Linked DNA regions of Homo sapiens: region 1 is linked to region 2. The links come from fine-mapping of genetic effects on gene expression. A gene starts in region 2. The other region holds a variant in brackets. All regions are shown on one strand. Distances are between the middles of the regions.

Evidence for each region. PIP is the estimated chance that this variant, and not a neighbour inherited with it, causes the effect.
Region 1: its variant is the best candidate, but not a certain one, in a credible set for the expression of TAS2R4 in tibial nerve (GTEx, PIP 0.51).

The regions. Positions count from the first base shown.
Region 1 is chr7:141,713,922-141,718,316 of GRCh38, reverse strand. It overlaps WEE2 (WEE2 oocyte meiosis inhibiting kinase), which reads right to left. Exons shown (of 12, transcript NM_001105558.1): 2 at 3,912-4,108; 3 at 2,050-2,095. The region is part of intron 3 of WEE2-AS1 (WEE2 antisense RNA 1); the gene reads left to right. Among named protein-coding and RNA genes, the nearest start is that of WEE2, 7.8 kb to the right of the region's middle. RefSeq lists a silencer at 3,002-3,202. The variant T/A (reference allele first, on the strand shown) is at 2,195.
Region 2 is chr7:141,774,032-141,778,426 of GRCh38, reverse strand. It overlaps TAS2R4 (taste 2 receptor member 4), which reads right to left and starts at 1,753. Exons shown (of 1, transcript NM_016944.2): 1 at 1-1,753.

The DNA of each region.
Region 1 (4,395 bases), 60 kb after region 2:
TAGTAAATTCTCATTAAACTATTATGACCAAAAATCTCCATAAATTTATATGAATCTAAATCCAAGCTGATTTATCTCCCAAAGTCATCTTTTCTCAGTGTCCCAATCCTGAAGAATTTTTCTCCAACTTTATGAGTTTGAAAAATCTTGGGTTTTACTACTTCCTCATTTTCAACATCTAATTCTGGTCACTTTCATCAGCAAGATCTCTTAATTTTCATTACCCTTAGCCAGTCTCAAGCTCTGTTCCCTTCTTGTCTGGATTGGCTACAGCTACCAGCCCTCTCTTTAACTCTTCTAATAGTAAGAATTATTTTTGCAAAATGATACCACAGAATCAGAGATGCCTAATTGTTTCCCATGAGAAATTCAAACTCTTGATAAGAAAGCCTCAAGACCTTCTACCAACTGCGCACTCACTACTTGACTACCCTCCCCCTAGATACCAATGAAGCCAGTATACCATCTGCATCTATCCCTGACCACTCCCCACCCACCATACCCCTCTTACACCTGAACTCTGTTCTCCTGCCTTGATAGCATTAAAAGTTATTTACTTCCTTAGCCTAAAATTATCTTAATATACAATCTCTTCCTACCCAAGCTCTATTTCATAGAAGTATTTACTAACCACTTCTAGATTTTAAAGATATACACGCATATGTATATTCACATTGCACATATGTACATACACATATACACAAATACATATATCTCATAGCTTCTAATTTACATATAGATTGTTTTGAAATTTCAAAGGTTTTAACTCCTGTTTGGCCAGATGTTTTTCCTTAAAGGGTGTAACTAAATACAATGCTTTGCACTTATTTAATGTTCAATAAATATTAGAATTTCTATCTGAAATCAAGAGATAAATTATAAAATAAGTGAGGAATAAAATCCAACAGTAAAATAATGGAGGCATAAGTCAGAAACATTTGCATTTGAAGGAACACCTGTGCCAGTGGCCGCCTTTTCTGTGATGTTTACAATAGCCAAGTGCTAACATTTTAACATATTAACATATTTATTTACGCAAATAAAACTTGCTTCAGAAAACTTTAAAAATTTAAAGGAAAAACAAATATGAAGTTTCCACCATTCAAAAATGTTGAAATAGCAGTGGTTATAGCTCCATTTCATTCTCCCTGTGATTAATGTGCAATAGATAGTTATGGTCATTCAGCGTATAAAATTTTGAGTCTTTTGCACACTAAACATTAACATACGCATGTTTTCAAGGTGTTATAAACATCTTAATGGCAATTTAGTATTTCACTGACTTAAAACTGTAATTAGCTTAGCCATTTTTCTATTATCAGGCATTTGGTCTCCCCCCTTTTTTGCTGTTACAATAAACATCTCTAAGGATAATGTTTGCAGTATTATTTTCTTAGGTTAGATTATCAAATGAGGGATGGATCAAAGATTGTGAACATTATAAAATCAAATATTGATACATTTAAGAGCTAAAATTTTACATATAAATCTCTGGCTCTATGCCCCTTTTTTCCATTATCTTTTTCTATTTTGAGACCAAAAATATCTTAATTTTCCCTTCACTTCTCTACCCCATGAGTGTAGAGTTTTTCTCCAGATTAAAATAGTAGCAGAAATATGTAATTTTAAAATTACTCTAAAGTAATGATCCAGCATATACATATCAGACACTGCCTGGCAGAGTTACAACTAGCTGAGAACACAGACCCTGACTAGGGTCCAGATAAATTCAGCTGCAAAGCACATTTACAAAGCTAGCGTGTGAGATGGGGTGAGATGGGGAGGGGAGGAGAGAAGGAGAGTAGGAGAAAGGAGGGGAGGAGGGGAGATGGGGAAGAGAGGGCAGAAGGAGAAGGGCAGAAGGAGAGGGTAGAAGAAGGGGAGGGAGGGTGCAGGGTGAAGGAGAGGAGGGGAGGGTGAGGAAGGAGAAAAGGGAGGGTAGGGAAGAAGGGAGGAGGGAGGAGAGAGAGGGAGAAGGGGAGGGGAAGAAGAGAAAGAATAGGATAAACTGCCTATATTGTGGCCGCTGGGACAAAGAACTACGCTTACCTTGGCAGGCAGCCCTCCCTTGCCTTCCTCTGGACCAGCTTCCTCACTTAAAAAAGAAAAAAAAAGTTTATCAATATATAATTAATATTTATTGAGGCCGAACTATGCTAGGTTCTAGGGATGTAAGAGTAAATAAGACAATTCA[T/A]TTCTCTTCGGTTTATATGTGGAGGCAGGGATAACCAGGAAATTTCAATACAAGAACCTAGAACTGGATAAGATAACAAGGATACCATGGACAGCACTCAATTATTTCAAGAGTGAAAAGCTTTCCCAGAAGAGAGAATATATAAGCCAAGATTCTGGGAACGAGTAGGAACTAGCTAAGGGAAAAGAGTGAGGTTTTCAGCAGGTAAAACACCATGTGCTGGAGCAAGAGAGCACAGAACATATGTGCAACTGTTAAATGGGTATCTTTATCCCCAAACTAGGAAACCAAGACAGAGAGAGGTTAAATAACTCTAGGTCAAACAATTAGCAAGTGGCAGAACTGGGACTTGGAGCCAGGTCTGACACCAAAGCATTTGCTCCTCACTGCCACACCACACTCTCTTTCCGACACCCACCCCTCCCCTAGAATCTGGCTTTGTAATCGGTTCACAGGTAGACTGCAAGTAGGGCAGAATCTGCTCTAACCCGGGATGAGATATTTTCAATTACTCTTCGATAAGCTAAGTGACCAGCAGACATCCTCTTTGCCATGCATACTTGTATTCTGGATCCTTAAGCAAGATTTCAACTAGCTATAGATTTTTCTTTTGGAGAAACACAAGGTAGAAATGGCAAATGGAAGGCACTACATTCATGGAAATAAATCAATGCTTGGTATTTGTGATTTAGTACCACATTGTAATACTTTATGAAGTGTTTATAAATTATAAAAATAAGGAAAAATACTCTCTTAGAAGCACCAAATGACGCTACAAAAGTGTCAGGATTTCATATTAGCTGTCTTTGTTGCTGGCTTCGGTGAGAGTATAATGATTTACAGAGACTCCTTAAGAACTAAAACCAATCGAATTCTTGGTAGCCAAAGTAGGTGGGTGGACTTGTGCTGAAGTCCTGTTTATTTAAGTAAGAAGGAGATAGTGTTGAGAGAACCTATTCTGGTCAAAGACTGATTAACACATACTCATTGACTCCAAAGAAACAACTTGACATAGCACATTAAATGCTCTGCAAAGTTTACATTGTTAGCTGTCCATTTATTTCGCTGAGTACATATGAACATAAATGACTGCCCCACTTTGGAGGCGATTCCATTCTATAAAAAAGCCTTGGAGAGACATAGTAATGTTCCTGAGTAATATGCACAATCCTTATTTGGATGATTTCTGTCATTCAGGGCCCTTTATGGAATAGTACAGTTTGGCTTTCTATTCTTTAGCAGCTCTGAAAGCAATGCTTTTTTGCTTCAGCCAATCTTCCATCACCCACAGAGAAGTTCAAATCCTTGCTCTATAGCTTTCATCACTAGTCACACAAGACTCAAAGCAGCAACGTACTCTTTGAAGTTTGAGCTACACGTTCCCCAACTGCCAGCCTCATATTAACCAGAGGGGACCCCTTGAATGCAATTCCATAGCCCACTCAACTTCCTAATAGAAGCCAGAGATCTATTGCTTATTCTGTCTTATCCTTTTATAGAGAAAGCATCTACAGTACATATCAGAATGGAAAGATGTTGGAATCTCTGTGATAAAGCAGGTAAAACCAGCATTGATATCTAGGAAGGGGAGAATATGTAAGCATATACATTTCATTCAAATAGAGTTCTCGTTCCTAATCTTACTTTAACACTCACTTCTTACTACTTGACTGTAGTAGGGTCAGTTCTCAAAAGTCATAAGTAATAGAGCACTTACAGATCTCCTCTTATTTTCCTCTTGCCACCAGATTGAAGAAATAATTTTTTATAGGACTCTGGAGTGAAGGGATTAATATTGACCAGAGCCAATGAGGTCATCTCATCCTTGAGGGGAGCAGGTGTGAGCTTCAAATGCTTAGGGCCTCTGGAAGGAAGCTTCCCTGTTGGAGAAATCACCAACCGGCTCAGCATGGTCTGAATGAGGATGACAAAAGGCAAGTCATAATAGCATTAGTAAAGACATTCCTTATCAGTTAGCTAGTTAATATTTGAATCTAAGAATGCTTTTGCTGAAGGGGCCTTAGAAATTATCTGGTTCCATGTGAACTGGTTGCATTGTAACTGCTCCTCTTATGAAAACTATAGAATCCCAGTCTCTACCTCTAGATATTCTGATTCATGAAGTCAACACAGGAATCTGTACTTTAGTCAAGCTCCAACCCCTTCCCCTGGGCAATTCTGTTAGCTAGCTATGAAAACCA
Region 2 (4,395 bases):
TGTATAAGCAGACACCAGTATCCAGCCAGGAAGGACATCTCCTTTTTAATTTTTCCCAGCATGGCAAATGAGCCATTCATGATCAAGGGCCACCTGATTTTACTGAGATGCAAATCTTCCAAGGATTACATTACTATTTCTTCATTAGTATCCTGTTCTCCTTAGAAATGCCTAATTACAGCAAGCCTAGGTGATGCTGGGAGTCCACTCCTCCAAGAGCAGGAGGGCGAGAGGGAAGAGTCACAGCAGGCTCCAAAAACTTAGAATCCAAACCAGAGAGCTTGAGTCCAGCAATGTTTCTGTCAATGTTTTACGGTAAAGTTTTTCTTCATAAAAATGCCAGAATATGGTGGAAATCCTAATTCCTCACTCCTACCCACCCACCTCCTAGCCACATATTCATGGATGACCAGAATCCAATTTCTCTCTCCCCTCTAATCTGTTGCTGCCACAACAAGTTTCACCAATTGGCCATGCCAATGCCACTCTTTCAACCTCAGTGATTCACCTATAGCGATTTACAGTGATCTAATAGATCAAGTTCAAAGACCCAATACCTCCTTGAGAAAACCTTTCTCAATTAATCCCATTCTTTCTGATGCCCTTTGCTTTGCCTTCTCTATCTACATACATAGATTTGTGCCATAACCATTTGCTATGTTCTGGTTTTCCTTAGAAAAAATTAAGTCAGCCCTTGTAGGTGTTTCCTTTATAAATCTGGGTTTATGTTTAGATCATATGTGGCTATTTTCTCTTAGGCATTTAACTGTCAATCCAGGTACCCTGGAATGAGATACACAGTAATGCATTAGTTGTAGTTTTGTGAGCCAAACAGCTAGGCATCTCATTGCTGGATTTCTCTGTACTTGCTCAGATGGGAAATGGCAAAATATCCCTGGCAAATGATATTATGGAGGCCCATAGGTGAATGTAAGAGTATGGCATCTCTTATCTTCTCTAGCAGCTGAATGAAACCAAGGTGCAATCCTGGATGCAGCCACAGATGTTACCAAAGTAGCATCAAGGTACAGCACAAAGTCCTACTGCCAAGTCCAAATAGAAACAGACAAGAAAAAGGAGCTAAGATTTAATAATAATCAGGTCCAGAAGAGGGGAATACATTCATGAGGCCCTTTAAGACAGATGACAGGAAGCCTAGCCTGGAGAAATTCTCTGACCTGGTGCCCAGGTGCTTACAGAAGCTTTTTATTCAAAACTAACAGGCACTGATAGAGGCATGCCCACATCAGGTAAGCAGGCAAACAGAATGAGCCAGGAAGACTATGACTAAAAGGAAAATTATAGCACAGATTTCCAATTACTTATCCATAGATGGCTGCATTAAAGTGGTGAAGTTGAAATATTACTAACATCACATTTAAATAGAATAAATGATATAGAGTAAGCCATAACAGATAAATGTGGCCAAAAGAGCAGGAATCCCAGAATTAGATAGTAACAAACTCTATCTAGAATGTACTATACCAAATTGTTGGGTTCTCTGTAGGAGGAAGTGCTATAATTAAGATGTGATAAGGTTGGCTAGCACAATCAATGAATGAGCTCATTCAGTTAGAAGTTATTTCCACAAGGGTCAGTATAGGAAAAGTGTTAGCAGAACCCTTTCTCCCTATGCATGAGAATTTGACCTATGGTTAAACTTCCTAGCTGTTTTCCTTATCATGATGATAAGGATGATAAGGATAATCTTATCCTTATATGATAAGGGTAAGAACATCAACTATGTTTCTAGAACAAAAAAAAAAAAGACTCTTGATTGGAAAATTGCATCTTGACTGGAAGGAACTATAAGTGAACTGTAATAAGTATCTTATGGAGTCTACATGCATTGGGCTTCCTTCCCATGTACCTGTACCTTGACTCAACCCTAGAAGCTTTGTCTACAAAATTACCACAAAATAAATTGGATCTTTTGGGACACGAAGCTTTTAATTTGCAGCAGCTCCCACCCTTACCCTACTGTGGGTCTCTTATTACTGTACCTGAACTGTATGGCCTGCACCAAAAACTCTGCAAAAGAGGAAGGCCTGACACTGCCCTGCTGGTAAATCGGGTCCCTCAACTATATCCATCTGAGTAGGCTGGTACCACAGTAGCCTAAGATAGTCTTATAAGTTTGATTATTTACTAGAGCCCAAGAAGACCAACCAGCAGGCACTGCAGTCATGGATCCAAACTCTGCTTCTTGACAGGTCTGTAAGAAAGGCTTTAGGGCAAATAGTCAAAGCAAATGAATGGCACTTAACTTATTTGATGATGGCTCTGAAGAATGAGGTCAGTCATGAAGAAACAGGAATTTAGAAGTTTGAAATTTTTTCAGGTGGAGCCAACATGGCCGAATAGGAACAGCTCCAGTCTACAGCTCCCAGCATGAGTGACGCAGAAGACGGGTGATTTCTGCATTTCCAACTGAGGTACCAGGTTCATCTCACTGGGGAGTGTCAGACAGTGGGTGCAGGACAGTGGGTGCAGCGCACCGAATGTGAGCCGAAGCAGGGCGAGGCATCGCCTCACCCGGGAAGTGCAAGGGGTCAGGGGATCCCCTTTCCTAGTCAAAGAAAGGGGTGACAGACGGCACCTGGAATATCAGGTCACTCCCACTCCAATACTGTGCTTTTCCAACAGTCTTAGCAAACGGCACACCAGGAGATTATATCCCGCGCCTGGCTCGGAGGGTCCTTTGCCCACAGAGCCTCACTCATTGCTAGCACAGCAGTCTGAGATCAAACTGCAAGGCAGCAGTGAGGCTGGGGGAGGGTCACCCACCATTGCCGAGGCTTGGGTAGGTAAACAAAGTGGCTGGGAAGCTAGAACTGGGTGGAGCCCACTGCAGCTCAAGGAGGCCTGCCTGCCTCTGTAGACTCCACCTCTAGGGGCAGGGCATAGCCAAACAAAAGGCAGCAGAAACCTCTGCAGACTTAAATGTCCCTGTCTGACAGCTTTGAAGAGAGTAGTGGTTCTCCCAGCATGCAGCTGGAGATCTGAGAACGGACAGACTGCCTCTTCAAGTGGGTCCCTGACCCCTGAGTAGCCTAATTAGGAGGCACCCCCCAGTAGGGGCAGACTGACACCTCACACGGCTGGGTACTCCTCTGAGACAAAACTTCCAGAGGAATGATCAGGCAGCAACATTTGCTGTTCACCAATATCCACTGTTCAGCAGCCTCTGATGCTGATATCCAGGCAAACAGGGTCTGGAGTGGACCTCCAGCAAACTCCAACAGACCTGTAGCTGAGGGTCCTGACTGTTAGAAGGAAAACTGACAAACAGAAAGGACATCCACACCAAAACCCCATCTGTACGTCACCATCATCAAAGACCAAAGGTAGATAAAACCACAAAGATGGTGAAGAAACAGAGCAGAAAAACTGGAAACTCTAAAACTCAGAGTGCCTCTCCTCCTCCAAAGGAATGCAGCACCTCACCAGCAATGGAACAAAGCTGGACGGAGAATGACTTTGACGAGTTGAGAGAAGAAGCCTTCAGATGATCAAACTACTCCGAGCTAAAGGAGGAAGTTCGAACCCATGGCAAAGAAGTTAAAAACCTTGAACAAAAATTAGACGAATGGCTAACTAGAATAACCAATGCAGAGAAGTCCTTAAAGGACCTGATGGAGCTGAAAACCAAGGCACAAGAACTACGTGACAAATGCACAAGCCTCAGTAGCCGATTCGATCAACTGGAAGAAAGGGTATCAGTGATGGAAGATCAAATGAATGAAATGAAGCGAGAAGAGAAGTTTAGAGAAAAAAGAATAAAAAGAAACAAACAAAGCCTCCAAGAAATATGGGACTATGTGAAAAGACCAAATCTATGTCTGATTGGTGTACCTGAAAGTGACAGGGAGAATGGAACCAAGTTGGAAAACACTCTGCAGGATATTCTCCAGGAGAACTTCCCCAATCTAGCAAGGCAGGCCAACATTCACATTCAGGAAATACAGAGAACGCCACAAAGATACTCCTCGAGAAGAGCAACTCCAAGACACATAATTGTCAGATTCACCAAAGTTGAAATGAAGGAAAAAATGTTAAGGGCAGCCAGAGAGAAAGGTCAGGTTACCCACAAATGGAAGCCCATCAGACTAACAGCTGATCTCTCGGCAGAAACTCTACAAGCCAGAAGAGAGTGGGGGCCAATATTCAACATTCTTAAAGAAAAGAATTTTCAACCCAGAATTTCATATCCAGCCAAACTAAGCTTCATAGGTGAAGGAGAAATAAAATCCTTTACAGACAAGCAATTGCTGAGAGATTTTGTCACCACCAGGCCTGCGCTAAAAGAGCTCCTAAAGGAAGCACTAAACATGGAAAGGAACAACCAGTACCAGCCACTGCAAAACCATGCCAAATTGTAAAGACCATGAAGGC